Homo sapiens: one gene and its partners. The protein of the gene in region 1 purifies or fractionates together with the protein of each later gene. This does not show direct contact. Each region holds a gene or a part of one and is shown on either strand. Other genes may lie near its edges.

Evidence for each region.
Region 2: the proteins of GAS2L1 (region 1) and RBM12 purify together in Homo sapiens (affinity purification with mass spectrometry; 3 studies listed by BioGRID and IntAct, with this or other methods). This does not show direct contact.
Region 3: the proteins of GAS2L1 (region 1) and KLHL42 purify together in Homo sapiens (affinity purification with mass spectrometry; 3 studies listed by BioGRID and IntAct, with this or other methods). This does not show direct contact.
Region 4: the proteins of GAS2L1 (region 1) and EPN1 purify together in Homo sapiens (affinity purification with mass spectrometry; 3 studies listed by BioGRID and IntAct, with this or other methods). This does not show direct contact.

Annotation. Positions count from the first base shown.
Region 1 is NC_000022.11:29,309,650-29,313,456, forward strand, and holds the end of GAS2L1 (GAS2-like protein 1), read left to right. Parts: intron 1-789; coding exon 790-897; intron 898-988; coding exon 989-1,085; intron 1,086-1,177; coding exon 1,178-1,349; intron 1,350-1,812; coding exon 1,813-2,848; 3' UTR 2,849-3,138; downstream 3,139-3,807. Other genes in the region: RASL10A (ras-like protein family member 10A), read right to left, coding at 3,652-3,807. UniProt on the Homo sapiens protein: Involved in the cross-linking of microtubules and microfilaments. Regulates microtubule dynamics and stability by interacting with microtubule plus-end tracking proteins, such as MAPRE1, to regulate microtubule growth along actin stress fibers.
Region 2 is NC_000020.11:35,661,083-35,670,884, reverse strand, and holds the start of RBM12 (RNA-binding protein 12), read left to right. Parts: upstream 1-5,984; 5' UTR 5,985-6,125; intron 6,126-9,802. Other genes in the region: NFS1 (cysteine desulfurase isoform a precursor), read left to right, coding at 1,200-1,263.
Region 3 is NC_000012.12:27,796,289-27,804,707, reverse strand, and holds the end of KLHL42 (kelch-like protein 42), read right to left. Parts: intron 7,462-8,419; coding exon of another isoform or gene 7,418-7,461; exon of another isoform or gene 6,994-7,417; coding exon 6,542-6,993; 3' UTR 1,668-6,541; downstream 1-1,667. UniProt on the Homo sapiens protein: Substrate-specific adapter of a BCR (BTB-CUL3-RBX1) E3 ubiquitin-protein ligase complex required for mitotic progression and cytokinesis. The BCR(KLHL42) E3 ubiquitin ligase complex mediates the ubiquitination and subsequent degradation of KATNA1.
Region 4 is NC_000019.10:55,677,762-55,686,872, forward strand, and holds part of EPN1 (epsin-1), read left to right. Parts: intron 1-765; coding exon of another isoform or gene 766-866; coding exon 867-1,094; intron 1,095-7,634; coding exon 7,635-7,884; intron 7,885-9,111. UniProt on the Homo sapiens protein: Binds to membranes enriched in phosphatidylinositol 4,5-bisphosphate (PtdIns(4,5)P2). Modifies membrane curvature and facilitates the formation of clathrin-coated invaginations. Regulates receptor-mediated endocytosis.

The DNA of each region.
Region 1 (3,807 bases):
GTGCGTGCTCACCCGGCCAGTGGTCTGTGTGTGCATGTGTCCGATGTGTCTGTGGTACGCCTCCACATCAGTGCCCACCCAGGGGCATGGGGCCCCCTGCACCTGTGTCCTGTAGCCTGCCTGGCCTTCCTGTGGGCCCCAGCCTTCTTGTCTGAGAAGTGGGTGAAGCGGGAGTGAGGACGGGCTCTGGGCCTTCCCCAGGTCTAGGGGCTGTGGGATGTTCGTCACCGGGTCTCAGACCATGGCCTGACCACAGTCCCATCATCTCATCCTGGGCAGCTCCCTGGACCCAGAGAGCCAAGAAAGGGGAGCCGGTGAAAGGTCATGTGTGGGCCGGGCGTGGTGGCTCGCACCTGTAATCCAGCAATTTGGGAGGCCGAGGCGGGTGGAACTCCTGAGCCTGACCAACATGGAGAAACCCCATCTCTACTAAAAATACAAAATTAGCCGGGAGTGGTGGTGCATGCCTGTAATCCCAGCCACTCAGGAGGCTGAGGCAGGAGAATTGCTTGAACCTGGAAGGCGGAGGTTGCGGTGAGACGAGATCGTGCTATTGCACTCCAGCCTGGGCAACAAGAGCAAAACTCCAACTCAAAAAAAAAAAAAAATAAAAAAAAATAAAAAAAATAAAAGAAAGGTCACGTGTGGAAGCTGTACCCCATCCGGGGCAACACTGCCTCCATCCACTTACCCGGAAAGCCTGACTTCCTCCTGACCCTGGAATGGCTGACATTAAGCCCCAGGAGGAGGACTTGACCTCTGACCCCTACCCTCTCTCTCTGGCCTCAGGTGAGGGAGATTCTGGGCCGCTGCACCTGCCCTGACCAGTTTCCCATGATCAAGGTCTCAGAGGGGAAGTACCGTGTGGGGGACTCGAGCCTGCTCATCTTTGTGCGGGTAAGGGCCTGGGGCCGCCCCAGCGGGCAGCAGCCAAGGTGGTGGGCTGCGGGGCGCCCGGGGCACAGCCGTGACCTGCCCACACCTGCAGGTGCTGAGGAGCCACGTGATGGTGCGAGTGGGTGGTGGCTGGGACACGCTGGAGCATTACCTGGACAAGCACGACCCGTGCCGCTGCTCCTCCACTGGTCAGTGCCAGGGTGGGGCTGGGGCTGGACGGGCAGGGGACTTGCTTCTGTGGCTCTGTCCCTCACATGCTGCCTGTCCTCTCTCCCCGCAGCTCATCGCCCACCCCAGCCGAGGGTCTGCACCTTTTCTCCACAGAGGGTGTCGCCCACCACCAGTCCCCGCCCTGCTAGCCCAGTCCCTGGGAGTGAGCGCCGGGGCTCCCGGCCTGAGATGACTCCCGTTAGCTTACGAAGCACAAAGGAGGGGCCCGAGACCCCACCCAGGTGAGATGCAGGAGGACGAGGAGTGAGGGGTCCAGAGGGTGGGGGGGCGTCAGCCCTGGCCTGCATGATGGGTTGCCTGTGCGCCAGAGTGACTCACACCCTGGGAAAAGTTCCCGTGGGTGGGGGCGGGCCTGGCTTCCCATCTCCATGGCAACCCAACCAAACCAACAACACAGCTGGGGCGGGCCCTGTGGCTGGGCGGCAGCCAGTCCAGCTCTTGCTTCCTCTGGCCCGTCCTGGGAAGGGGGGTGTCTAGAGCCCAGGAAACTTCTTCTTCCGTGGCTTTTGGGGCCCTGGGCCGCTGGAGGAAGCTGCTCACTTCTCCCTGGAAGTCCCCAGGACAGACCGATGCCCCTGACAGCCCCGTCCACCAGCCACATACCCTGCTGTTCCTCTCCCTGCCTGTTCTGCATGCCAGTCCTTCCGTGGTACCCCATCTGTCTCTATTGTCCCCCTGCCCCAGGCCCCGGGATCAGCTGCCCCCCCATCCCCGCTCCCGCCGCTACTCCGGGGACAGTGACTCCTCAGCCTCCTCCGCCCAGAGCGGCCCCCTTGGTACCCGCAGTGATGACACAGGCACTGGCCCCCGGAGGGAGCGACCCAGCCGGCGGCTGACCACAGGCACCCCGGCCTCTCCGAGACGGCCTCCTGCCCTGCGCAGCCAGTCCCGAGACCGGCTGGATCGCGGCCGGCCCCGGGGGGCCCCAGGAGGCAGGGGAGCCCAGCTGTCGGTCCCCAGCCCTGCCCGGCGGGCCCGGAGCCAGAGCCGCGAGGAGCAGGCTGTGCTGCTTGTGCGCAGGGATCGAGACGGGCAGCACTCATGGGTGCCAAGGGGCAGGGGCAGTGGGGGCTCGGGCAGGAGCACCCCCCAGACTCCCCGTGCCCGCAGCCCTGCAGCACCCCGGCTTTCCCGGGTCTCCAGCCCCAGTCCAGAGTTGGGCACCACACCGGCCAGCATCTTCCGCACACCCCTGCAGCTCGACCCGCAGCAGGAGCAGCAGCTGTTCCGGCGCCTGGAAGAGGAGTTCCTGGCCAATGCCCGGGCCCTTGAGGCTGTTGCTAGCGTGACCCCCACTGGACCAGCCCCTGACCCAGCTCGGGCCCCCGACCCTCCAGCTCCTGACTCTGCCTATTGTTCCTCCAGTTCCTCCTCTTCGTCCCTCAGCGTCCTGGGTGGCAAATGTGGCCAACCTGGGGACTCTGGCCGGACGGCCAATGGGCTGCCTGGGCCCCGAAGCCAAGCCCTTTCCAGCTCCTCCGATGAAGGCAGCCCCTGCCCTGGCATGGGGGGGCCACTAGATGCACCTGGGAGCCCCCTGGCTTGCACTGAACCCTCGAGGACCTGGGCACGGGGTCGGATGGACACACAGCCAGACCGTAAACCCTCACGTATCCCCACGCCTCGGGGCCCCCGCCGCCCCTCCGGACCCGCAGAGCTGGGGACATGGCATGCCCTGCACTCAGTCACCCCGAGGGCTGAGCCAGATTCCTGGATGTGATGGACCAGCTCAGCTGTCCCCAGACCCCATCCCTTCTCCTTTTCCTTTGTGGCCTTAACCCTTCTGCATCAGGGAGCCCCCTCTGCCTCTTGAGTACCAGACCTCATGGGACCAGACCCCTTGGGACCACATGGCACAATGGGACCTCTGTTGTACATTCCGGTTGGGGGATGAGCGTTGCTATTTAATTACTAATATTATTGAATGCCTTAGAGGAGGCCGGGCGAGCCCGGTGTTCTGAAGACCTGTGGCCCAGCAGAGCCTCTGACAGTAAAGTTTTGCTCCAGCCACCTGTCTGTTTCTTGGGGACTCCACCTTGGGGCCATTCAGACCCTTTCGAGGACCCTGGAGTTAACTGCCTGGAGGCCAAGCCTGGCAACTCTGACCTCTAGGCTTAAGGCGTTATCCCGCCCAGCCCAGAAATCCCAGGCGCACTCAAATTATTTTCCCTTTTATTATCCCGTGGTAGGTGTGGCATAAAGAATATGTCCAGTGAAGCTCCAGGAGCAGGCTGCGTGTTTCCAGTCAAGTTCATAGCCAAGTCCTTTCCATCCAATGGGATTGTGACCCATTGAGGTCCCAGAAAGGACTGGTCATCTCCAATGGAGCTTGGGACCTGGTTGGGTCCAATGAGGTTCAAAAGGGGGCCAGTCGCTTAGGAGACTGGGTTGGAGCTTTCCTCATCCAATCAGGGCGGAGACTTCCCTGTCCAGTCCCAGTGAAGTTGGGCGATCCCGTCCAATCCAGGTCCCTGATTGTCCCAGTCACAAGGTGGGGCCCATGGATGGCACTGTCCGATCGGGTCACATGAGGCTGCAGCGCGCGGGATGCAGCGCCCCCTGCAGGCGCAGGGCCGGGTGTGCAGGGCGCGCGCGCACCAGAGCGCAGCGCAGCAGCTCGCGGAAGAGACGCAGCACGTGCCAGTTGTACTTGGCGGAGCACTCGAGGTAGCCGCAGCG
Region 2 (9,802 bases), on another chromosome or scaffold:
CTTTCTGTGTTCTGGATTTTTCTTTGTAGGGTCTAGCTGTATTGCTTAAGTGTCTATAGCTTGCTCAACTGCAGGACCCTTCCTTTGTCCTCACTTTCTGGTATTCTGTGGTATACTCACAAGGCATTTCTACTGACCACGTGGCCAGCAAAGCCTTTTGTTTCCTATCTATGTGGCTTCGGCATCTGCACCCTATTCCTTCTGACCCTTTACAAACTGAATGCAGCCTGGTCCTATTAGCTCTCAGAGTCTTATTTTGTGAGCCTATAATAATAAGTGGTCTTCCCTAAAGAGGAAGGACAGGAAGGAGATGGCTAACTTTAAGGGCCATGGAAAATCTCATGAATAGAAAGGCATTCTGGGAATGTTTAGTATATAGAAGAGGGACAAGTCAAGAATATAATGAAATTTGATAAAATTACCTGGTGAAATCTAAACTGTAAAATCCCATATTCATAGCACACTGAAGTAATATCTGGTCTGGGAACATTATCCAAGATATCCAAGCTTCTGCTTGGGGATCGATCAGAGCTTAGCAGAGATTTCTTAGCAGCAGCTCTTGTGTGAGATGGGATGCTCAGGTCTAAGATCCAAGGAATTCTTTTGGATTAGACCCAGGGATATTGGAAGCACAGGCCAACTCTGGGGAGATGAAACGGGCAAGAACTGGGTAAGGGTACAGCATACCAAGATGATGTAGGGTTAAGTTCCACCCCTAACTGGGAACTAGAACAAAACCAAGAAACAAATGCTGAAAAGCGGGTAATATGTGGTGGGCTGAAACGAGCTGCTTATACATGTCATATGAAGAGAGGCTTAAACTAGATGTTTATACAAGTCTCAAGGGTCTTGGTTCCTCCAAGGGAAACCATGGCCATAGCCTCTTACCAGTGGGATGAAAGCTTCAAGAATATGACCATGTTTGGTGTCCATTGGCTCAGGGCCCCACTGCAATTGAGCCTGAGGAACCTAGTTATTCCTGTTAGCAGTTGGGGAGAGCTCTCAGGAGAGCTGACAAGGACTTACAGGGAGCTGGAGAGCTCAGGATACCTTAACCACCTGTGTTAGGGTCTACCAGGGCAAGAGGCAGAGGACAGACAGGGACAGAAGGAGGCAAGCCATTGCTCAGAGCCTTGGGGCCAATGTTGTCGACTTCCTATCTAAGCCCTCACTCATTTAATGCCTCTTCTCTTTGGCAGCCCTCTCTGGGAGATGGTTCAGGATGGCATTGACCTCAAGAGCATCAAGTGGACCCAACACTAGAAGAATAGGGCCCTGACTTTGTGCTGGTCTGGCCCCTCCTGCCTCACCAACCCGTGCACAACCAGACACCTTGTTACACCTAGTGGATGCTCTAGATTGGTATAGACCAGTTGACTTCAGCATCAGTCCACCTCTATGACAGAAACACAAGAAAACTGTCTTTCCCTAGCTTCAGTTCCTTGGGTGTGGAGCACTCCCCATTTCTTCTCGGGTCTTAAAGTGTGTGGACATTTTCATCCCGAAGCCATAGAGACATTTGCTGTCATATTGCTGCTGGGCACATCTGTGCTCTTGGTGAGGAGAGCAAGAGGAACCAGAAGAAGTCTCTTTGGTCAGGGACCATGATGCTCTACATGGACATTTGAGTCTTCGTCTTCTGCTGCTGCTCGGCTGGACCAGCTTCTTTAACAGCAAGCATAATCCACTTCAATGTAATATTTTCTGTAGCTCCAAAGGCTATCTCTTCATATTGACTGCAGACAGACTGAATGGACAGTTTCTTAGAGGGCTTGTCTCCTTTCTACCCTTGTCCTCTTTCCTTTCCTTTGACCTAATGGAGCTAGAAATATGTCTGTGACTCCACCAGTTATTCTAATAATTTGTTTTCTTGAAAATTGTTAATTTCAAGACTGGAGAAATAAACTCACCTTCTATTTACTCTGTGACTTTATGAGAGGTTGAGGGAAAAGTGGAAGCTGTACTTGGGAATTGTGGAGAAGACCGCCACTCCATCTGATTTGCATAAATGACTCAGTGGGCTTTTGTATCTCTTCATTTAAGAATTATTTGAATGCCTGCCAGGAGCCAGATTTGTTCTGGGTATTAGGAATACACTGGTTAACAGGACCAAAAAAGACCCTGCCCTCACTGAGTTTTAAATTTTAGTGGAGAGATGGAAAATAATTAAACAAATAAACAATGTTATAGATTGTGATAAGTGCTATGAAAGAATTAAGTGGTAAGAGGACATAGCAGGGAAAACCTACCATGCTGGGTGTTTGAGGAAAGTTTTTCTGAGGAGGTAGTGCTTATAAATATGAAGAGCTCGCTAATCTAGAAATGAGAGGTGAGAAGGAATGGCAAGAGCTAAGGGCCTGAAGTGTGATAAAGCACAAAGTATTATACTTTAGAAACCAAGAGAAGGCCATTGTAACTAGAGCTTTTCATTTGTGGGTCTGAACCCATAGGTGGGTAGTTACCAGTACTTAAAAAAGGAGATAGTATGTTAGAGTACATTTATGCATATTTTAAGAATATATTTTGATGATATATTTGAATTTGTATACCAGGTTATAAATGTATTTCTTATTGTGGATAATGGTCAAAAAAGTTTAATTGCTTTTCATACTTGCCAGTAGCAGGGGGACAGGAAAGTTTGAAAGCCACTGGGCTAAAGTTTGGTAAATGTAGATGGACAGTGGAAGGAGGAGATGAAATTATAGAATTTTTCTTGTTGAAAAATATCTTTTTTACTTAGAATAATTTTAGATTTACTGAAAAGTTGCAAAGATAGTAGAGTTGTAGATCTATTACCAGTTTTCCTCTAATTAAAAAGTCTTACATAAAACTATGCTAATTTGGCTGGGTGTGGTGGGTCACACCTGTAATCCCAGTACTTTGGGAGGCGAAGGTGGATGGATTGCTTGAGCTCAGGAATTCAAGACTAGCCTGGGCAACATGGCAAAACCTTTACTCTACAAAAAAATACAAAAATTATCTAGGCGTGGTGGTGCCCACCTGTAGTCCAAGCTATTTGGGAGGCTGAGGTGGGAGGATCGCTTCAGCCCGTGAGATCAAGGTTGCAGTGAGCCTTGATCGCACCACTGTATTCAAGCCTGAGCGACAGAGTGAGACCCTGTCTCAAAAACAACAATAGGCTGGGTGCTGTGGCTCATGCCTGTAATCCCAGAACTTTGGGAGGCTGAGGTAGGCAGATCACGTGAGGTCAGGAGTTTGAGACCAGCCTGGCCAACATGGCGAAACCCTGTCTCTACTAAAAATACAAAAATTAGCTGGGCATGGTGGTGGGTGCCTGTAATCCCAGCCACTTGGGAGGCTGAGGCACAAGAATAGCTTGAACCCTGGAGGCAGAAGTAGCAGTGAGCCGAGGTGGCAGTGAGCCGGGATGGTGCCACCACACTCCAGCCTAAGCAACAGAGCAAGACTCCGTCTCAAAAAACAAGGCCAGGCGCGGTGGCTCATGCCTGTAATCCCAGCACTTTGGGAGGCGGAGGGAGGTGGATCACGAGGTCAGGAGATGGAAACCATCCTGGCTAACACGGTGAAACCCCCGTCTCTACTAAAAATACAAAAAATTAGCCGGGCGTGGTGTCACGCACCTGTAGTCCCAGCTACTTGGGAGGCTGAGGCAGGAGAATTGCTTGAACCTGGAGGTGGAGGTTGCAGTTAGCTGAGATTGTGCCACTGCACTCCAGCCTAGATGACAGAGTGAGACTCTGTCTCAAAAAAAAAAAAAAAAAACAACAAAAGAAAACTATGGTACATTTGTCAAAACTTAGAGGTTAACATTGGTATATTAGTATTAATGAAACGTGATTTTCTAAAATTATTAAAGATTTTTTTATAGAGACTGGGCCTGTGTTGCTCAGGCTGGTCTTGAAGCAATCCTCTTGCCTCTTGGCCTCCCAAAATGCTGGGATTACAGGTGTGAGGCACTATGCCCGGCCTAAACTTCAGATTTTATTCAGCTTTCACCAGTTTTCCTGTCTTTTTTCTGTTCCAGGATCCAACCCTGGATGCTACATTGCATTTAGTAGGTTTTGTTTTTAATGGACTATGTTTTACCTACACAGAGCAAACCTATAAAAACCTATAAAGCATAGGTTTAGTTTAACAGTGTGGCCTGGTTTTCCAACTTGCTGTTTTTGGCATACTGGGCTAGCACCAGTCCAGTCTGCCATAGAAATCCCGAAAGGTTGTTGGAATTGTGATAATTTCAACCTTTTTTTTCTTTTTTTTAAGTGATAGGGTCTTGCTCTTGTTACCTGAGCTAAAGTGCAGTGATGCAATCATAGCTCACTGCAGCCTCGGACTCCTGGGCTCAAGGGATCCTCCTGCCTCTAACTCCCGAGTAGCTAGGACTACAGACTTAAGCCACCACATCCAGCTTTTAATTAGCAGGGGCATGAAGTTCGGGGGGCTAGGCCCAAAGCGGCTTGAGAACAGCTTTCTTTTTTTTTTTTTTTGAGATGTAGTCTCGCTCTCCTGATGGTCTCCATCCCCTGACCTCGTGATCCTCCCACCTCGGCTTCCCAAAGTGCTGGGATTACAGGCGTAAGCCACCACGCCCAGCCAGAGAATAGCTTTTTCTATAATAAAATAATACTATAGTGAAGCCGTGGAGGGGTCACGATGGATTTAATTTTTTTTTTTTTTTTGAGACGGAATCTTGCTCTGTCGCCTAGGCTGGAGTGCTATGGCGTTATCTTGGCTCACTGTAACCGCCACCTCCCGGATTCAGGCGATTCTCCTGCCTCAGCCACCCTGGTAGCTGGGACCACAGGCGCCAGCCAGCACGCCCAGCTAATGTTTGTATTTTTAGTAGAGACGAGGTTTCGCCATGTTGGCCATGCTGGTCTTGAACCCCTGACCTCAGGTAATCCGCCCGCCTCGGCTTCCCAAAATGCTGGGATTACAGGCGTGAGCCACTGCGCCCTGCCCTAGATTAAAACTCTTTTTTTGTTTTTTTTTCTGAGACGAAGTTTCGCTTTTGTCATCCAGGGTGGAGTGCAATGGCGCCATCTGGGCTCACTGCAACCTCCACCTCCCGGGTTCAAGCGATTCTCCTGCCTCAGCCTCCCAAGTAGCTGGGACCACAAGCACCGCCACCACACCCAGCTAGTTTTTGTATTTTTAGTAGAGGCTGGGTTTTGCCTTGTTGGCCAGACCGGTCTCGAACTCCTGACCTCATGATCCGCCCTTCTCGGACTCCCAAAGTGCTGGGATTATAGGCGTGAGCCACCGCGCTCGGCCTGTATAAACTTTTTTTTTTTTTTTTTTTTTTTTTGAGATGGAGTCTTGCTCTTTCGCCCAGGCCGGAGTGCAGTGGCGCAATCTCGGCTCACTGCAAGCTCCGCCTCCCAGGTTCACGCTATTCTCCTGCCTCAGCCTCCCGAGTAGCTGGGACTACAGGTGCCCGCCACCACGCCCGGCTAATTTTTTGTATTTTTTAGAAGAGACGGGGTTTCACCGTGTTAGCCAGGATGGTCTCGATCTCCCGACCTCGTGATCCGCCCGCCTCGGCCTCCCAAAGTGCTGGGATTACAGGCGTGAGCCACCGCGCCCGGCCCCCGGCCTGTATAAACTCTTAAATGGGAAAAAAGAATCAGGTTTTGGCTGTTTTGTCAGGATATAATAACTAGCCACCACGTTGTGGTCCATTTAATCCTCAAAAAACTTAGAGGTAAGCACAATTCGCTCCTTCCGCGGAAACTGGAAGACGTGAAGCAATTTGCACAGTCTTGCAGTGAAGGGCCAAGCTAGACACTCATACCCAGCCCACCCGCCAGGGCCACTAGCCCAAGGTCGGTCCTGTGCGCCAACAGTCGCAAGCAGGGACTGAATATCCCCCTCTTAGCACAAAACCCAGTAACTTCCGGGAGATCGCCCGAGACCGTCAGCGCGCTTGCGCGGCCCCTTGACGTCAACCACGCCGTTCCTCCCCCTTCTGGAACGCGGAGCCGCTGAGCGGGCCGACGGCCATTTTGTGAAGCGGCGAAGGAGGTGGTGGCTGCGTTGGGCTCCGGGAAGCCGTTCGGGCTGGGGCTGTCGGCCGCGGGGCGGAGGCACTCGCGCGGGGGGTAATTCGGGGTCTGGGTTCTGGTGCCGCGCAGCTTTCCCCGGTAAGACTCCCGCAGCCCCTGAACGGGTGGGGCTGTGCGGGGCTCGTGGTGCCCCTTGGTGGCCCGGGGCGGGGCCTTCGGAGGCCTTCGAGCCCGCGGCAACTAGCGCCCCACACAAAGGGTCGAGGCAGGGCTGCAGGGGGAGTGGGATGCCACTTAGGCCTCTGAGATCTGAGAGGATGCAAGGAGGACGCAAGAGGATGAGCCTGCGTACCGAAGTGGGGACGAGGCCATAGCGAGGACTCCCCCGTGGTCTGAGAGGGGGCAGGCCAGAGCTGGCTGGCTCAGCGGCCTGCGAGCTAACGGGGACTGCAGTAAAAACACGCCTACATCCCGAGTACGGAGGATTTCTTGTCTCCCCCAGTGAAGCAGAGGTTATAACTACATCTCTGTGCCTGGAGGTGGGGAGATAATCGTAGTGAGGACACTCCTTCAACCCGAAATGGAAAGGAGGCCTTTGTGGCCTACCAGCAAAAGGGGACCCAGGTCACACCTGTGGGGAGGAAGCTGTAGTCGGTACACTCCTGTGAGTTCAGAAAGGAAGTGTCACAACCGGCCGCCTTCGTGGCCTGAAGGTGGAGGGGTTTGCAGTGAAATGCCTCCGAGGTCCATTGCTGGGGAGGGGCTTTACTCGAGGGTGTAGCAGTTTTGAGAAGCCGGCGTCTGAAGCTAGGAGGTGAGGGGGTGGGGTGAGTACGCCTCCTGAGGCTCTGAGAATTGTAGTAAGATGCCAGGCCTTTGGTCCCCCAGTAGGGAAGGGGCTGCTGTGAGCAGCACATTTACGGCTCCCTCGGGAGAGGATCCTGTGGCATTTCAGGAGGACGAGATCCAGTGGGCTGCGGAGGGTGGGTGCTTTTGATGGAGAGTTAATTGAGTTTCTCTGAAGCTTGGCTGCATTAGTTTGCAGCCACGTGAATTGGGTGGTGGGAGGGACTTTGAGGATCTACAGGTTAGTGACGGGGTTGGACGCCAGTGCAGCAGGCTTAGCTGCTAGGTTGTAAACGTACGGGCTTTTTGTGTGCCTCCAACGTGTGCTTTATAGTGACAAATCTGAGGGGCTCTTGTGAGGGTTACTCAGTATTAAGTGCTAAACATTTACTCATCTGCGTGGTGTCATGCTGAGAATTGCAGACTTTAAGAGATTTCTGGGCCCTAAAACCCTCCTTGGCTCCAGGATTCTCAGAGATAACCTAATATAAATTGAAGAAGTTGGTAGGGACCGTTTTATATTATTCAATAATAGAGTCAGTATAACCCACTGGAAAAAAGTGTGATGGCAACTGAAGGTTTGTTGAAGGGAGAGGCTAGGCTTGTGACTGCAGTATTTTAGAGCTTCTTGCTTGAATGGTTTGAAATGGTGTAATTTTTGCAAAATGCAGTCTTAGCAACAAGAATTGTCTGGGACCTTGTTAACTAGTGTATATTGTTAATGCATCTCAGAGCATTTGCAGTCGAGAAAAATCCCTCAAGTCTGGACACATAGGGAAATCTTGTTTTTTAAATTATAGAACTACAATACAAGACTGGTTGTACTTGTTTTTGAAATTTGGCAGTTTTGATAAGAATGGAGGATTTCTGGATTTAGTGGAAAGTGTGCAGACATTTTCAAAGAGTATAAAAAGTTGGGAAGAACTGTTACAGGTGGTTCAAATAACGTTATGGTAATTTATGAAGAAAGTGAAATGTTTGGCGTGTTTATACAAAACAATGAAGATGTGCTTAGTATATATTATTGGACAGATTTTTAATGAAACAGGGAATACATTTTTATATATGCTCGATTAAATGTGATTACTTTGCTTATGGATTGTAATGTATAATTTTCATTTTCTTTATGTTCAAATCTGTTAGATGAAAAATGTGAAGCTTTAGAAATAATTGTGTGGTTACTTGCAACGTATTGTTACATGCTAATACCAGTACTCTTTGGGCTTCTTTCACCTTCTTTGACACGTCAAATGTTTTGATGATTGAGTATTGAGAGTTTGGGAGTTGTTAGTACAGTCTTTAGGTGTGAAACTTGATGTTGTGGGCCAGTGTGTTCCAGGTGCTGGAATCCAGTGACAGTGTTGATAGTTTTTACTCCATTTTGCAGAGAGCCATTCTGTCATTGTATGAATGTATGTTTTCTTCTGTAGATGTTGTAGGAAGAACCAAGTGTCAGTAGTTGGTTGCACAAAAGATGCTTTTAGATGTCCCTCCCTAAAATGCAGAGACTGATGATGTCCACTTTTATATCTTTTGTCTGGCCCACAAGTGCTTAATAGTAAATGTTCATGGAGTAAAGGAATATTGTTAAATGTTTTCAACTAAACAGAAAAGATAATTTTATCTAAACTACAGTTTTATCAGATTTTACTACCACACCCATATACCTTTTGGTTTGCACAAAATTTAATTAAGTTTAAAGCCAGCTTTTAAGACTCAAAAACAGAGTGAATGTGGTTGTTTAGGTTAGAAGTATAATTTTGCTCTGAAGTGAAAATGAAGGTAGCAACATTTTTGTTGGCATTTGGGGGGATTGAAACATAACTTAATATTTTTGACAGGAGGAATATCTTATTTAGAAATGTCTTCTGATTTGCTGCCTTTGAGTACGGAATGGAGGTTAATGGAAAAATTGAGTAATGCGTTATAAAAAGTACACATCTCCATCAGTGTCAGAATAATTTTTTCATTAAGAGTGATCCCAGACTTTGATATATGGTCCATTTGGGAATGGGGAACAAAATCAAGTGGCTGAAACTGTGGTTGTTTCATAATGTTTATTATAATGTGATTATACTGTTTTTAGCATTGTGCCCGTTGTGATTGGTTCTCTGTTGCTAATCTCTGAGGTGAACATTTGAGAGTTTGTTTCTTTTGGATCTGAAGAACCTAGCTCTGCTGTACCCTGGTTCTTGTTGATTAAAGAGTGATAACTGAACAAAGTTAAAGTTCACTTTTGGATGTTTACTACCAGATGAAGAGTGAAAATAGTCGTTTTAGTTTGTGCCTTGACTTCTTGATGAAGAGATTTGTTGTCAGACATTTTTTTCTGAAATTCCAAGTGATTAGAATGGCTAGTAAATACGAAAGTCTGTCTTGCCATAATATGTTAAATTTTTGTAGCAGATACTTGTGATTTGTGCATGCATCCGGTATTTTGTCAAGTTGAAGCAAGCCTTTATGTTAGGACTAATTCCTGATAATATGAATGGAAAACATACTAAAGCCAGCTTCTTGTTTTAGATCTTCTGAAGTATATCAGTGGCTTTAATGACAAATCAGGCCCATTTTCTCCTTTCCTATCATTATGCTGTATGTATAGATAGAATATGTATTTTAGATGTTTTATTGTTTAGTTATTATTTTAGTCTTATCCTTCTAAAGTTCAGCAAAGCTTTAGGTAAATGGCGTGGATTTTTGAAATCCTGCATTCAGTCGCTAGCTGACATTTAGAATACAGGAATAGTAGTTTCCTGGAAAACAGTGACACTTATGTTAAATTCTTGTGGTTTTTACAAAGTGAGGTGTCAACACAGAAGTATTTCAGTTCTATTTCCATTTACCTTTCCCTTTTGAAGAGGTATAATACCAAGGGTTGTGAAGTTCTGACTTGTAGCATCAACTTTCTGCATGGTTTTCCTTGGTATGGGGTGGGGTGGGTATTCCTCTTTGCTGAAATAGAAGAGAAT
Region 3 (8,419 bases), on another chromosome or scaffold:
GCCCTGGCGCAGTGGTTCACATCTGTAAATCGCAGCACTTTGGGAGGCCGAGGTGGGAGAATCGTTTTCTGAGACCAACCTAAGCAACATAGCGGGACCGCATCTCTATAAAAATTTTTTTTAAAAAAATTTTTAATTAGCTGGGTGTGGTGGCACATGCCTGTGGTCCCAGCTACTCAGGAGGCTGAGGTGGGAAGATCACTTGAGCCCAGGTGGCCGAGGATGCAGTGAGCTGAGATCGTGCCACTGCACTCCAGCCTGGGTGACAGAGCAAGACCCTGTCTCCAAAAATAGAGAAGGAGGAGGAGGAAAAGGAGGAGAAGGAGAAAAAGAGGAAGAAGAAGAAGAGGAAATAGGGTGGGTATTTTATTCCCCAAACACCTCCTGCCACACAGAGGTAATCATTTCTACTAATGCTGCAGTCCCTGGGATGTAGTCTGGGAACGGCAGACCCCTATGGTTTCAGATTATCCCAAAGCTAAGAGAGAGATTGACGCCATCAAACTGAAGGTGGAGGCATGGGCAGGAAGCCTGTGGCTAAGAGACAGACATCATAAAGATGGGCTCTAAGTTAAAGAAACTGGGCTCCTCTAAATCTGGGCCTTTATCCTATGGAGTTGCCGGAGATCAGATTTACCAGCATCTGAGTTTTTATTTATTTATTTTTTTAATAGAGACAGGGTCTCATTGTATTGCCCAGGCTGTCCTTGAACTCCTGGGCTCAAGCAATCCTTCCACCTCAGCCTCCCAAAGTGCTGGGATTATAGGTGTGAGCCACCGTGCCCAGCCTCAAATGGGTTTTTAAAGTTTTATTGCCAAGGAAATGTTGATGGCCTACAAACAGGAGCCTAGGATCCCTGGCCTCAACAGAAGTGTTCAGGTGCCCCTCCACACACCTCCTGTAACCATGCCCACAGGAAGAGGCTGCCACTTCACCCCCAGGCAGGTCAGCCATGGAACGCGCTGCTGCAAAGCAGGACCAGAGGCTCCCAGACTGGCTCACTCGGAAACCCACTCCTCCACTAGCAAGAGAAAGGATACCCTTTAAACCAGTGACCACTGTATGTAGTTTTCCCTTCTCCTCTTTCTCAAGTGGCAATTTGTAACCTACAGTGCCTCAGTTTCCTCAACTGTAAAGCGGAGGATATTTGTATTTACCACATGGGATTCATGTGAGGATTAAATAATTTAAATAAAAAATGCTTAGAATAATTCCTGGGAAAAAAAAAAGTGCTCAGTTAGATTTGGGTGTCGCTCTGCTAGGTCAGCCATCCTCCTTCTCCTCCATCAGTGTGTCCTGAGTGTGTAGAAAATGGTTGTCCATTTATTTCATTTTTCTTGAGTTGGGGTCTTGCACTGTCTGCCCAGGCTGGAGTGCAGTGGTGCAATCAGATCTCACTGCAGCCCCAAACTCCTGGGCCCAAGCAATCCTCCTGCCTCAGCCTCCCAAGTAGCTGGGACTAGAGGCATGCACCACTGTATCGGCTAATTTCTTTTATTTCTATTTTTTGTAGAGACAGGATTTCACTGTTGCCCAGGCTGGTCTCAAATTCCTGGCCCCAAGCAATCCTCCCACCTCAGGCTCCCAAGTCACTTCACCCATTTCCTCCCAGTCCTGGCACAGCCCTGCATACGTAACTGATACATAGAACTTAGATAACAAAAAGTGACTGAAAACTACTTTATTTGAAGACATTTTCTTCTATAGTTCTAAACACAAAAGGAATGCTGTTATAGTGGGTATTTCATAGGCATTCTTGTATTCAAATGAATCACATAATGTTTACACTTTTAAGCTAGACTTGAAATTGAAGACTTAATACAACCTTTTAACAAAGAAAGTATCAGTCATATCAAAACATAACTATTCATTCTACAGATTATCACTTTCCCTAAAATGACTACTAGATATGAAAACATTGCAGGGACAGCTCAAGTGCCCCATTCTTAAGGGTTTTTTTTAATAGGAAAAATGACAACGTAAATCACATTTTCCTTTTCTTTACTAGTAATGAACTATGGCAATCCATTTGAGAAAGCACCAGCCAACCGTACAAGTCATTTCAGCACCCTTTGCTCTTCAAAACTGACCATCTTTTATATTTAATGCTTCCTGTATGAATAAAAATGGTTATGTCAAGTACAGACGTCAGCAACGTGTCAGTTGGTGTGAATTTATGATGTGTTCCTAAGTCAACAGAGAAAATAAAAAAAATCTCTCATGTGAATAAAATCTAAGGATGAAAAACTATCCTTTGATAATTATCACAAGGCAAAATCAACCACCTTTTCATCAGTACTAGTGTGGAATGGAAATTTCTTTATTAATACTTTTTATGGGAATGTTTTAAAGGCATAGGTATAAATGCACATGCAATCAGCTTGCCCCTCTTAGATACTAACTTCCCCAGCTTCACTCCTCCTTTTCACTGGAACAAGCTGCTGAATCCCTAACTCCAAAGTCTGCAGTGCTTGGTGAGCATTTTTAAATAAAGATTATATGTGATTTTCACTTTTTCACAAAAATGAAGTACAGAGAAGACTGAAAAGCAGTGAGAAAAAAATCATAGAGCAAAAAACTAAAACACAAGATGTGATGTTCAAATTTAAAAGAAAAACAAAACTGGTTCGTGATGATTGTTAGTAAATCACAAAAACAAAGGACGGACAGGGCCAAGACCGAAGGGACCACCAGACCACCGAGCCCCAATGTGCCAGACAAAAGTGGGCATCTTTGAGAAGGACGCCCTGGTGAAGACAATTACAGTGAACCTCTTTATAAGGCCGTAAGCTCTTCAAGGTCATGGGCCGTGACTTATTTATGTCTGTATTCTGTTCTTAGCATTGTCTTGCACATGACAGACACTCAGTATTTCTGGTAACCACAGAACTGGAGCTCAATCAGCTCACTGCTTTCAAAGTCATTTTGGTTGGTGTCTACCCACTTAATTCTTTCACTCCTCTGTCTAAGGCAGGGATGGCAAATAGCCTTCATTTCACTCTGATGGACTGGGAATAGATGTCTGGAAGCACCAATCTGACATGGATTCTAAGACCAAATCCTGGCACAGAGGACAGGAATGCTGCACTCATTCATAATGCCTCCTTAAAAGAGCGGTGGCACAGGTGTTATATATTCCCCATTCCTGGTCTAGGAAAAAGGCATCCAACACCTACTTATATTCCTTTTACATTGCTATGCTGCCTCTTGAGTGATCTGCATTAAGCCACTGTTCGTTAAATGCTGGTTGATCAGGAAGACCAAGGCCTTTCCTCTCAATTTACGTCTTTGGCCAAACAGGTAGGGTCAGAACTTCACCTGGAAATCTGAAAACACATCATCCACAATGCTCAATAGGCAACAGTCCATTGAAAGAGAACAGGTATTTACTTGATTACTCCCTTTGTAGAGAAAGAATTTTGCCCATCTCAATGGTGTGTAGCTTTCATTGATATCTAAGGCATTTGGAATTACTTAGGATCTTGGTGTTAAAAAAAAAAAAATGGCAGGGTTAAATTCTCTTTGGTTCTCATTCTAATCTTAAGACTTCTGTTTGTTTCTTCCTGGTACCCATAACCTTCTCAGCACTTCGTCGTTGTGACTTAACCAATACTGTTGAAATAATCAACTCTTTCACACATTCATCAGAAAACCTTTTAAAGGATGCTAAGGGGAGAGGCCTCTGAAAATAAGTGGGTTGAAAGGAAAGCCAGAGAGAATAACAGGAAGAACCAACCTTCTAACAACCCACACACAGGACTCTCTACCATTCAGACTGCTATCTATAAAATAGGGTGCTTCTGGTCGGGGGGCTGCCACCCCAGGTCCTCCAAGCAACCCTTTTCCCCATAGTGGGAGGTCAGCATCCCTCAGAAGCATCTCAGGAAAAAATGATAAAGCATTTAGAGAATTGGGAAGAAAATAGAGGGATACTATCAAAGAGTAAAGGACAGTCCTGGGGGATGAAGGGGGATTTTCTTTTTTCTTTTTTTTTTTTTGGAGACAGAGTCTTGCACTGTCGCCCAGGCTGGAGTGCAATGGCACAATCTCGGCTCACTGCAACCTCCGCCTGAAGGGAGATTTTCAAAGCAACATTGCCTCTATCATAGGTAGTCTTCAATGTAATACTGGCACCAACAAGAGAACCGAGCTAAATTAAAACTACCCTCAAAATGTCATCACAGCTGATGTGCACAGCAGGAAGGACGATGTCACAAAATGCACAGATCTGTTCCTATTGCACATTCCACCTTTCCCACGTACTGCTGGCAGCCCAGAATAACCAAAATCTTTTTAGATGTCTGTCTTAAAGAGAGCTATAATATGCAAACATACACACACACACACACACACACCCCCACACACACACACAACCTCAAACCTGGTTTATAAAAGAGCTTTGTGGATCAGAGTACACCCTCACTTGGTCCAAGAATCTAATTGTCAACATTAGGCAAATAGACCCAATGAATGTAACCAGGAAGAGAATTAACTGGTTGGCTGGAATATTGTATTTGATATGATATGCTTATTTGCAAACTAATCTCCAACTGTTTGTCCAGTACTAATTCAACTGACTCATCTTCTAAATGTATAGGACAAAGCCTTTAAAAAGTTAAGCTCTTCAGCAACGAAAAGTTAACACCATCTAAAATAAATAGATTTTAAAATATATGTAATGAAATTACAGGTCACTGGAAATTCAATTCTACAATGAATATAAATTAACATTAAAATCTATTAAGTACTATTCCTGGGAAGATTTTGGTTCAGAGGTTTTATTTTTTTAAGGGCTTAATATTTGGGAATAAATGGGCATAGCTTAGAAACCCTTACAAAGTTGTAAGTAGACTAGAGGTAAGATTATTTGGTGACAAGATACAAAGATCTGTTTCTATGTCCAAAATAATGGCTTACCTCATTTTAGTTAATAGAAGTATTCCCAAAAAGTTGTGCAAATAGGCTTTTTATAACTGGACGCTTATTTTAAGTATACTAGAGGCCATGGTTGTAAAGAAAACCTGTAGTCACTCCTCTAATAAACTGAAGAACTCTAAGTGATTAGCCCCTGTCCTACATCTGCACAGTGGACGGCATACTCCAGGCACTCATAAGTGTTTGTTGAATGCATGAATTCGCTCTGACAGTTTTTTTTTTCCCCTACAGGACTTTCTTAAAGTGAGGCACATGCTAACTGAAATGGTTCTGCCCGCTGTTACTGCAGAAAGATGGAATCCAGCTCACAGTTTAACTGATGCCATTACAAAATATCAGATAATTTCAGAGTGTTTTCAATCAAAATAAAATTTCCATAAGTATGAGTGTATGTATTTTTGAGGAATGTTGATCTATGATTGGCAGAAGCTTTTATTGTTAACTCACTCACTGAAAACAACTGCTTGAGCTGAATTCTATTTCAATTAACAACCAAGGCAAGTAAAGCACTTTACCTAACTTCAGAAATACCACCAGAAACCATTCCACTTCTGTAACAGCTTCTTCCCCTCACTCCAGCACAAATATTTAAATGCTGTCCTTACCTTAGTCCACAAAAGCAAAACATGAATTACAAAGCTAAGATTAAATTAGAAAGCTGCCGACTTAAATATGACAAAGTTTTTTTAGCCTTAAAATAAGAACTAAGTCAAATACATTCAACAAAAGTAACTCTTAAAGGCAAATTTTTTTCTTATTTGGTGTTTTCTTCCCTTCCCATTTAAATTTAAGACTCAATTTTTAATAATATTCATATGTCCATTTTTCTAAATAATATATCCTCTTTAAAACAATACAGAATGCCTAGCAGTGCAACCTATGTGTCCACATAAATATGCAACCTGCCACATAAATAAAATAAGAGGTTTTATCAGTCTATTTATCCAGCATTTGTAACTGCAAAAAAGGCTGGAAAAATAGCTAAGAATATTTTTATGCAAGTTTTGGGGAGGACTGAACACTGGTAAGGATTCACTGTAGGGCTCCATCATTATAAGTTTCCTAAAAAGTAGTGTGCAAACAAAATATCTGAACACAGAACCCTAAACATACTAGATGTATGTGTGGGTATGGGTGATGGAGAAGAGAGAATGAATATGTTAATATGAATGCTTGTCAAGGACACTGATAAGAAAAAGAAAACCTCTCACTTAAGGTGCTAATGATATGTCAAGGGACCTAAATACAACAGATTTTAAAATCATCTTTACCATTTGTCCCAATTATTGACTTTGGCCCTTTACCACACAGACACAATGAATCTACATTTTGATGATCCGTCATTGGCCCAAGAGTATCATGTTTGGAGATGGATTTGCTCCCATAATTTAAAAATCAATAATTTAAAAAATAACAAAGTTGGTCTCTTTTTTCCACCAGTTTTCAAGTAATTAGTTCAAGTAAGCTTATTTACAGCTGCTACTGTATATATGTGACCTACTTTAACCCTTCTTTACCCTTTAGGAATTGGTCTCCCTTGGAATGGGACACCACATTTTAAAAAAAACTTGAACCAGGTTTTTTTCATCTACCAATTCAATTCAGTCATGTTTCTGCTTTATTGGGCAGATAAAGAGAAGAAACCAGCAAGTTATGTCCAAAAGCTGGAAAACGCCGAAATGCTTCCCAACTATCTGAAAAGATGTTGTACTTGAGGAACACTCGGTGTTCCAAGCTGGTCGACAGGGTGACGTCTCTGCTCATGATGTAGATGCCGTCGTTATGGAGCGCACAAGTCAAGTTAAGACCCGATTTGGACGTGTTCTCCTTGAGGTAGAGCCACTGGCGGGTGACGGTGTTGTAGGACTGCACGGTGAGCATGTCCTCGCTCTGGCTGCTCCTGCGGTTGGGCCCCAGCTCGTGGAGACACCCCCCCACGATGTAGATGGTCTCTTCCACAGACACCATCTGCTGCTTGCGAATGTGGACGTCACATGTTTCAAAGAGCGTCCACATGTCGGAAGAGGGGCAGTACTGCAAAATGTTCATGTTCCGGTCTGAAAGAAAGAAAGACAAGTGATGACACCGCCTCCACTAACACCACTAGGCAAGTCTGTACAGAAATGTCTACCTCTGCCTGCATAATTTGGTAACAAAGAGAAAAAACTCTTTCAGAAAAAGCACAAGTTAGAAAAACAGTTTTCAAAGTGGCTGGGAAGAGATATATTTAGATCCATCCGCACTCACCTCCCACTCCCAAACGTCTCTTCCGTGGGAGACTCAGACTGGATAAAACCAGGAAAAAGCGCAGCTCTGACTTTCACACAGCCCCTCCTCCCTGGTATCCCCACACCTTTGAACCACCAGGTCAGTGTAAAAAAAGTAAGTGCCTCAGAACCCTCATCAATAGCTACAAAATTACCGACTACTTAATACAGAAGCCAGGCTGGGCAGCAAGTAGATTATTCTTGATAGCTGATCCTAAGAAACATGACAAGTAGCAACACAGGATCTCCAGAGGCTGTCTAGTGAAAAGGACACAACGTTACAAGTCAGGAGAAAGGCAGCAAAGTCTCACCTGCGGCCTTCTAACAAGCCACAGAACCACTTGGCAATTCAGTTTCCAGTTTTTTTTTTGTTTTTTTTTAAAGACAGGATCTTTACCATGCCTAGCCTTAGTTTCCCCATTATATCACCAGAGAGACACTAACAAAGGTCCTCCCCTCTCCCTTTTCCCATTTCCCATGTCCCTCACAAGATGACAGTTGTAGCGTAGATAAGATCAACGTCTAGATAAAAGGTTGCTCTGACATTTTTAATTAATAATGATTTTCGGCCAAGCATGGTGTCTCATGCCTGTAATCCCAACTCTTTGGGTGGGCTGAAGCAGGAGGATCACTTGAGCCTAGGGGTTCGAGACCAGCCTGGGCAATATGGTGAGACCTCCTGTCTCTAAAAAAAATAAAAAATTAGCCAGGCATGGTGGTGTGCACCTATGGTACCAGCTGCTACTTGGAAGGCTGAGGTGGGAGGATCACTTTAGCATGGTAGGGTGAGGCTGCAGTGAGCTGTGATCATGTCACTGCATTCCAGCCAGGGTGACAGAGTGAGATCCTGTTCTCTCAAAAAAAAAAGTAATTTTCTTTAAGGAAAAATATGGCCTCGTCTCTTTTTGAAAAACGCTTGTGAAATTTAGAATATCTAGTTTTGTTTTTCTTGTTTTTAATTGTTCTCTTTTCTTTTCTCCTCTAGGAAAGAATAAACAAGTATTTTAGCCTCAGCAGAAAAAACAAATGCTCTGAGTTATAAACAGAATGAACTTTGTTGTTGTTTCTAAACAAACAAATCCTATCCATGAAGGAGACAGCTCAGCTTGGGAACTGGCAGACGACTAAAGCCTACAGCATTTTGACGGCTGCAGGCGCTTGGTAAGAGAAGACAGCTCGTTTTCTCAGAAGTTTCATACCTCTTACAGTCCTTTCT
Region 4 (9,111 bases), on another chromosome or scaffold:
TTAATCCCTTCATCAGCCTTCTTTCCCATGTGTCCTTGTTTCTGCTGTGGATTCCTGCCCCCTCTGCCCTTGTTCCAGAGGTCTTTCCTGCCCTCCCTCTCCACTTCCTCCTTGCATGGTTTACTGAATGGTTTTTCTGGGCCAGCTTCTTTGCTGGGAAAAGCCACATGCAGACAGACATGTTCTCTGCCCCCATGGGGCCTGTGGGTTGACCTTAGCTACAGAATCAGACGAGAATATAAAATCATGAGGGAGACTGAGTTTACTGATGAGGCCCCAGGGATAGGTGACTGTGATGTTTGGGTGTGCACCTGGGAAGTGTAAGCAGAGCCCTTGGGGTGAGTGGATATCCCTGGATGAGGAAGAAGGAAGAGCGCATGGGCAGGACGGAGGGCCTCCTGATGCGCTGCCGGTGTTTACAGGGCGTCAGTTCTCTAGATGACCGCATGGAGCCCCATTTGACAGAAGAGAAAGCTGAGGTGCAAAAGATCCAGCCCGCCCAGGGTGGCCTTGCCAGGAAGTGCTGAGCCAGGTTGTGGGGCTGCGATCTGCCACTGCATATACTCTGCCTCACTGAGCAGGGGCCCCAGCAGGAAGGAGGCAGCCTGTTTGAGGAACTGAAACATGGATGGGGTTACTTTGAGACCTAGAGGTTAACAAGGGACAGAGCCTTCTGGGCCACAGTTAGGAACTCATCTTTGACCCTGAGGGCTCTGGGCAGGCCATGTCCCATTTGTGTTTCCAGAGGTCCTCTTCCCCTCGCAGATGCGGTGACCTGCCAGCACCTGCCGCAGCCTTCGTCCGGGAGTCGCCCCATCTCTCCACGCATCGGGGCCCTGTGCCCCTTGCTGCTGCAGCCGGGCACCATGTCGACCTCGTCCTTGAGGCGCCAGATGAAGAACATCGTCCACAACTACTCAGAGGCGGAGATCAAGGTTCGAGAGGCCACGAGCAATGACCCCTGGGGCCCATCCAGCTCCCTCATGTCAGAGATTGCCGACCTCACCTACAACGTTGTCGCCTTCTCGGAGATCATGAGCATGATCTGGAAGCGGCTCAATGACCATGGCAAGAACTGGCGTCACGTTTACAAGGTCAGCATCCTGCTCTCCTCCCCGGGCAGGTGCAGGGGCTCAGGTGGGAGGACAGGAGCCCGTGTTGTGCACCCTGCCTGGGATGGCATCCCGGTTCTCAAGAGGAACTGGAGAAGAGTAAAATCTCTCTTTTTGTTTAATGAAGGCAACGAATATAAGGCTAAGAAGTTTGGAGCCTTGTGGTTAAAATCTGTTTTTGAGTGAGTGGTGCGTACGTAAGATTCATGTGCTGAGGAGGCCTGAGAGGGCCCACGGTGCCCATCTCTTCTGTGTGCCCAGACACCCAGTTCCTTTCCTCACAGCAGCCAAGTTTCCGCTCTGGGCCCCATCTATGAATGCCTCTCAGGCAGGTGTGTGCTCCCCGTGGCACAGGCGATGCCACGCTGGGGATGAACGCTGTCGTGCCTGTGAGCAGGACTCAGCGACTGGGTTTTCAGTTTGCTGCTCTTGGGGTCCAGGGGCCTTGGCATCCCCACCTTTGGTCTTTGGTTACTGTGTTCCTCGTGTTACGGCAAAGTGGCCAAGGACATGGGCTGGGGCCGGGTTATACTCCCAGTGGCGGGATCTCAGGCTCGTCCCTGAATCTCCCTCTGTGAGGGCCCATGGAGCCGATTCACGTCTGACTTGGGGCAGGGGCTGGTGAGTGTTAGACTCCTGCTGTTGCGGTCCCGTCGGCAAGCATCTGCAGAAGGCCCGCTCTGGGTGTCTTGGTGCACCAGACCAACAAGGCCCCACCCTCATGCGCTTAGACCTGGGCCTGCTCTGGCGGAGGTCCCTGTCCTTGCTGATCTTTGAGACTTCTGCCTAGGTGAGGGTGGTTCCCTCCACTCACAGATGAGGAGGCTGAGGCCTGGAGCGTTGCAGCACTTACACATGGGAGCAGGGGTTGAGGCTCGTTTCCTGTGACTCGTTTTCATACCCATCCCGACACACCAGGATTGGGTTGAGTCATAGATTGAATCAGTTATTGGTCATTTATTGTGAAGGGCTGGGTGGCGTTTGTTTAGTTGAGAATCTTGGAAAACCCTGGAGGTGCAGGTGAGCCTCTCTGGAGGCAACGAGGAGGGATGGGGCTGGAGGGGTGGGTGTGCAGAGGGGATGAATCCAGAGGGGCCCCAGACGCACATCCTTCCTGGTCAGTGGCTGGGGTGATGCTGCTGGGGGCAGACACAGAGTGGCCTGTGGGCAGGGCTGGCAGGTGCCAAGGCCTGAGAGTCTGCTGGGGAGCATGTGGTGCTGGCAGCCAGGGTGGACGGCAGGACAGGGCAGTGCAGGAGAGGGGACGTGGCCTCCAGTGCCAGGCGGGGCTTGGGCTGCTTTACTGAGGTGTAATTTGCACACAGTGAAACCCAGCCTTTCGAGATAGAGTTCTCTGGATTCTGACAGATGCACATATTTCATAACTGTCATCACAGTCAAGGCATAGAAGGTTTTTGTCACCCCCAAGACCTCCCCTATGGTTTTTGCAGCCCCTCTGGGACTCTCCCCAGGCCTGGCTGTTCCTGCTGTATCCGCCATCCCTGCAGCATCTCTTGATTCTTGGGACTCTCCTTTCTATGATCCCCACAGCAGAGCCTGTAGGATCCCCAGCCCATGTGGCTGAGGACACGGGGTTCCCGCTCCACCCTGAACCACTGGTTCCTCATGCTGGGGTGGGGTTCAGCCTCAGTTCCCCGGGGGAGGGTTGATGGCGTCTGGAAACCTGCTTTGGTTGCTGCTTGTGCTGCCTGCTGGACACTGTCCTGAGAGCAGCTTTGTGAGGTCAGCACGTGTCACTGTTGTCCCTGCTGCGGCATGCGCCGATAGCTGAGCATAGGCACAGGGCAGGGGTCCAGGAGGGGGTCCCTGGGTCCACGTCTAGCCAGCGCCTCCCTTCCTGGCTGACCACTTCTATCCCGCAGTCCCCTTCTGGAAGTACGGGTGATGAGGACAACCCCACAGGCCCAGAGGCCCTGAGCCACTGTGAAGCTGCTACACCCCCTTTGGCCCTCTCCGGAGCCCTCTGTGCTGACCTGTTCTGGCATGAGGGCGAGTCCTCTTGCTTCTCACCATCCCTTCGCCACATGGTCTCATCTTGTCACTTCAGCCCCAGGTGGTGGGTTGTGCAGGAGCAGTCTTTCCACTTTGATGGATGGGGAAACTGAGGCCCAGAGACGGGGGAGGTGGCCTGCCGAGGCTCGTGGGGGAGCTGGGGCTTGGGCCCATCTGTTCAGAGCCCAGGCTGTCCCACCCTGTGGCCCTGCTGGCTGGCACTTTGTGGGCCTTATTGTCCCCGTGGAGAAGGAGGGTGAGCTGTGGGGGCCTTGCAGGCCTGGCTCTGCACGGCCTCCCTGCATGGCCTTGGGGGTGAGTATTGGTGAGTAAGGGCCGGCGTTTATTTGGTACCTTGTACGTGTAGCACACACAGGTTCTCATGAAATCCACGGTTACCCTGTAAAGGAAGTTCTTTTTCTCCTTTTCCTCTGTTTTCCAGATGAGGGAACTGAGACATAAAGGAGCTCAGCTCTACCTCGCAGGAGGTGGTAGAGCCAAGAGGAGCCCCGAGCCCACCCTCTGGGCCCTGCACTGCCACCTCACTTCTGAGGAATGCAGGGTCTCAGTCTTGGCTTTAAACCAGGGGTCAGCAAAGTACAGCCCACTGGTGAAATCCCACTCACAGCCTGTGTTTGTAAATAAAGTTTTATTGGAACACAGCCAGGCCCATTCATCTGTGGCTGTGAAGTAGTTGAGACAGAGAGTATATGGCCTGAAAAACTGAAATGTTTTTCATCTGGCTCCTTACAGAAATGTTTGCTGATCCCTGTTTTAAACTTTATTTCTGCATTGCAGGATGTCCTTGATAAAGCTGTCTTTAACATTAAGAAGGACTATCATTTTATGCAGTTGCCCACTGCTTTTTGGTTGTTTTCAGAAAAGCAAAGGAGAAATAATGACTTATTTTGCAAACTTTTTTTTTTTTTAACTTTTTTAGAGACAAAGTGTTGCTCTGTAGCCCAGGCTGGAATCCAGCAGTACAGTCATAGCTCACTGAGCCTTGACCTCCTGGGCTCCAAGCATGGTTGAGGAATAGCTGGGACCACAGGCACACACCACCATGCCCGGCTAATTTTAAGATATTTTAAATTTTTTTGTAGAGATGGCAGTCTCACTGTGTTGCCCAGGCTGGTCTTGAACTCCTGGGCTCAAGCGATCCTCTTGCCTTGGCTTCCCAAAGGGCTGGGATTATAGTCATGAGCCACTACACCTGGCCCACTTGCTCACTTCTAAAATAAGGTTTTAAATTTTTCATTAAGAAGTTGTATACTAAGCACATCATGAATGTATAACACAGCTGTTACGCATGTGGACACCTGTGTAGCCTTCACCTAGAGGGAGGTAGAGGATGCATTCAGCCTTCCAGGTTTCCTCAGGAGACCTGTCTCCCACAGCACCGTGTCTGATTTCTGTCTGCCAAGACTGTTCTTGAGCTTTATATATGTGGAGTCACACGCGTGGTCTTTTGTGTCTGGCTTCTTTTGCTCACCATCACCATCAGGTCAGCAAGGTTGACCGTGCTGTTGCATAAAGCAGTTGTTCATTTATTTTGAGAAAGTCTCACTGTTGCCCAGGCTGGAGTGCGTTGACATGTTCTCGGCTCACTGTAGCCTCTGCCTCCCGGGCTTAAGCAATCCTCCTGCCACAGCCTCCCAAGTAGCAGGGATGACACGCATGTGCCACCACGCCTAGCTAATTTTTTGTTATTTTATTTATTTATTTTTTTAGAGCTGGGGTTTTGCCATGTCACCCACGATGGTCTTGAACTCCTGGACTCAAGCGATCCACCGACTTTAGCCTCTCAAAGCACTGGGGTTACAGGATTTTGCCACTGCACCCGATTTTATATATTTATTTAATTATTGTTTCTTATTTATTTATTTATGAGACGGAGTCTCGCTGTGTTGCCCAGGCTGGAGTGCAGTGGCACCACCTCGGCTCACTGCAACTTCTGCCTCCCAGGTTCAAGCAATTCTCCTGCCTTAGCCTCCCGAGTAGCTGGGATTACAGGTACTTGCCACCACGCCTGGCTAATTTTTGTATTTTTAGTAGAGATGGGGTTTCACCATATTGGCCAGGCTGGTCTCGAACTTCTGACCTCGTGATCCGCCCGCCTTGGCCTCCCAAAGTGCTGGGATTACAGGTGTGAGCCACCGCGCCCAGCCTGTTTTTTGTTTTTTCTTGAAATGGAGTTTCGCTCTTGTTGCCCAAGCTGGAGTGCAGTGGTGCTATCTTGGCTCACTGCAACCTCTGCCTCCCAAGATCAAGCGATTCTCCTGCCTCAGCCTCCTGAGTAGCTGGGATTACAGGCGCATGCCACAATGCCTGGCTAATTTTTTGTATTTTTAGTAGAGATGGTGTTTCACCATGTTGGCCAGGCTGGTCTCAAACTCCTGACCTTGTGATCTGCCCGCCTTGGCCTCTCAAAATGGTAAGATTATAGGTGGGAGCCACCATGCCCGGCCTTATTTATTTATTTTTAAATGGAGTCTCACTCTGTCTCCCAGGCTGGAGTACAGTGGCGTGCTCTTGGCTCACTATCACCTCTGCCTCCCTGATCCACGGGATCCTCCCACCTCAGCCTCCTGAGTAGCTGGGATTACAGGTGTGCACCGCCACACCTGGCCAGTTGTTTTGTGTTTTTAGTAGAAACAGGTTTCATCATGTTGGCCAGGCTGGTCTCGAACCCCTGACCTCGGGTGGTCCACCTGCCTCAGCCTCCCATAGTGCCGGGATTATAGGCGTGAGCCACCACACCTGGCCTCATTTCTCTTTTATTTCAGTGTATGTGGTAGTCCCGCTGTGTGAGCGTGCCATAGTTGATGTATGCATTTCACTGTGCGTGGGTATTCGCACTATTTCCTGCTTCACAATCTTTTTAGCTGCGATACCAAAGTCCAGAGAGCTCTGGAAACGAAAGTGTTTCATGATCCGTTCGGCACAAAGTCTGACCCAGACTGAAGTGAGGTCGTTCACATGGTGTCTGTTGGTCCCACAGTAGTGTGGCTGTTGGCACGACTCTGCCCAGCGCGTTCTCTTATGTGTTGTATGTGCGTTATTTTCCTGGTCTGAACTCAGGAAAATTCTGAATTCCAAAACACAAGGGCCCCAGGAGTTGTGGACCTGGGACTGCCTCTTGGCTTGGGGTGTGATCAGGCATAGCAATGGCTTACCTGCTTTCCTTTCTTTCGTGTAAATACCTTGAGGGCCGGTTAAAGACTAATCTCTGATTACACTGTAAATACTGTTAACACACCTTTGAAAGGCCTTGCCAGAGCTAGGTCCAGCTGCCTCAGAGGGTGAGGAGATATGAATGGCCCTGGCATCTTTCCTGGCAGATTTCTCCTTGGTTCAGACGGAGCTTAGCTGTGATAGCTGACTCTTCCCCTAGGAGCCCTGGGTGGGTTTCTGTGGCTCTGTGAAGGCCCTGGAATCCCCTGCAGAATCAAAGTTGTGCCTTTTTTTGAGGTCAGTGACCAAGACACCCCCTGCAGAGCCTTAAGGGGGCCATGACTCCTCAAGCCCAGGACTTGAGCCTGAGCTAGGGAGAGCCTCAGAGACCTTGGTCCCCCCGCCCCCACTATTAATTTCAACTTGTTGAAAGGGAGTTTGTTTTCGTATTATAAAATACAAACATACCAAAGGGTGCAGATTGAACGATAATGTTCCCTCCGCCCTGTCCTTTTGCTCCTGGTGGTGTGGAACCTGGGTGCCCCTCCCAAGAGAGCCCGGGCCTACACAGGCCCTTGCGTGGATCTCTTCCCTTCTTGCAGAGGTGATAAACTACTGCTCCAGGCTGTTAGTACCAGCGTGAGGTTTTACAGTCAGAAATACACATTTCAAACTAGTACTAAGACCCCCTTCATTGTGATTTAACTAATGTGGTTTTCTTGGCCATGTTACTTTAGATTTTAGTTGTAAAGAAATAGACAGGGCTCCAGGATGCCAGGCGATGCCCATGGCGGCTGTGGTGCCTGTAGCTGCCATTTCCTCTTTTATTTGGATTGAGATGGAGCTCCTACACTGTGCAGCCCCCTTCATATCGCACAGTTCAGTGGCCTTCGGCCCATTCACAGTGCTGGGCGACCACCTCTGTCCAGCTCCAGAACGTCTTCATTGCCCCAGAAGGAAAACCCATAGCCTTCAGGTGGTCCCTCTCCATCCCTCCCTCCACCCCTGGCAACCCACAATCCACTCCGTCTCTCTGGATTTGCCCATTCTGGATGATTCACGTCGATGGAACCGTAGGCTGTGTGGCGTTCTGTGCTGGCGTCTGTCGCTGAGCGCAGTACCTCCGCGGCTGGTCCCCGTCACAGCGTGGGTCTGTGTTCATTCCTTTGCATGGCCGTGTCGTATTCTGTGGGGACAGATGTGTGTCCACCCACTGGCGACAGGTGGGTTGTGGGCCTTGCGCCCAGTCGGCCGCCCCAGAGCCCGCGTCGCAGGCAGTCTCTGGCCCGCCTTGTGCCCGGCGTGCTGACCGGGCATCCCCGTGCCCGCTCGCAGGCCATGACGCTGATGGAGTACCTCATCAAGACCGGCTCGGAGCGCGTGTCGCAGCAGTGCAAGGAGAACATGTACGCCGTGCAGACGCTGAAGGACTTCCAGTACGTGGACCGCGACGGCAAGGACCAGGGCGTGAACGTGCGTGAGAAAGCTAAGCAGCTGGTGGCCCTGCTGCGCGACGAGGACCGGCTGCGGGAAGAGCGGGCGCACGCGCTCAAGACCAAGGAAAAGCTGGCACAGACCGCCACGGGTGAGTCCCTCCCTGCGGCCCCTGACGGCCTAGAGTCTGTCCTCCGCCTACTGCGGCTCCCGGCACCCGGCCGCCCACTGCTTTCTCTCCCAGCCAGGAGGGACCGCGGCATCCCCCTTTGCTTCTCCTCACCTGGGCCCCTTGCTCTGGTCTCACTTGGGCCCTTTTTTTCCCTTAGCACCTCCCATGCAGCAGCTCTGGGACCCTTCCTGCCTCTTGCCTCGTGCCCCAGGGCAGGCCTAGAATTGGGAACTTTTATTCCGCTCCCCCATAGGCTCAGGGCCTGAGGGTGATCAGTGCTGGGGACAGGGCTCTGAGGGGACACGCACAGTGACCCCCGAGGGTGCTGTCCTTCTCTCTGCGCTGAGATGAGGGGAACATCGGAGAGGCAGAGGGGGGCCTGGAAGAGGCACAGAAGGAAGGCCAGAGCCAGGGCCTGCAGGTTGCACCAGGCATCTGGGCCTGTGTTAGGAGCCTTGACAGTGCCTTCTGGAGGTGGAGGACTCAGTCTGGTGGGTGGTGACCAGCACCGAAAACAAAACTTGAAATAGTGCATCCCACATCGTCAAGCCAAGATCTGTCCCACGAAACATTTCCAGTTATGTGATGGGTGTGTGGGTCTCGGACTGTTCCAGGAAGTGTGGTCTGTGTTGGTCGGGGGCTCACAGCCGTGAAGAGGCTAGTCCGGCTGCTCAGGACTGGGAGGGAGGCTGGAGAATGTCTGCCAGGCTCTTCTGCTCTCCAGGAAGAGTGGAGGTGCCTCAGTTAGTGGGGATACGTGGGATGGGGAGGGGCTGCTAGAGCACTGCCCTGGAGGTGGAGGTGGGTCAGCCAGGCCGGTGCAGACAGGAGGAAGGGCCTGTGGCCCTCGTGGGGTCCGGCTCGAGGGACTGGACTTGTTTGGGGAAGTCTAGGCCTTCTGTTTGGACGGGTCTCATTTGGGATCACCTTTCAGCACCCACGGGGAGACATGGGTGTGACGGGGTGTGTGCGACCCTGCCTGGGACTCCAGAGTAGGGACCCACGAGCCAGTAGATGGGCGTGAACGCAGAGAGAGAGTGAAGTGGAGGGAAGGAAGCCGGTGTGGCGTGGGAGTGCTCAGAGCCAGGGACAACAGGAGGGAGTGTAGGCGGCAGAGAGGGGCTGGTCAGCTCGAGGCAGGCAGGCAGGCAGGTGGGTGGCGGGGTTGGGGTGGACGGAGGAGGGACATTGGCAGTAGCTCGGAGG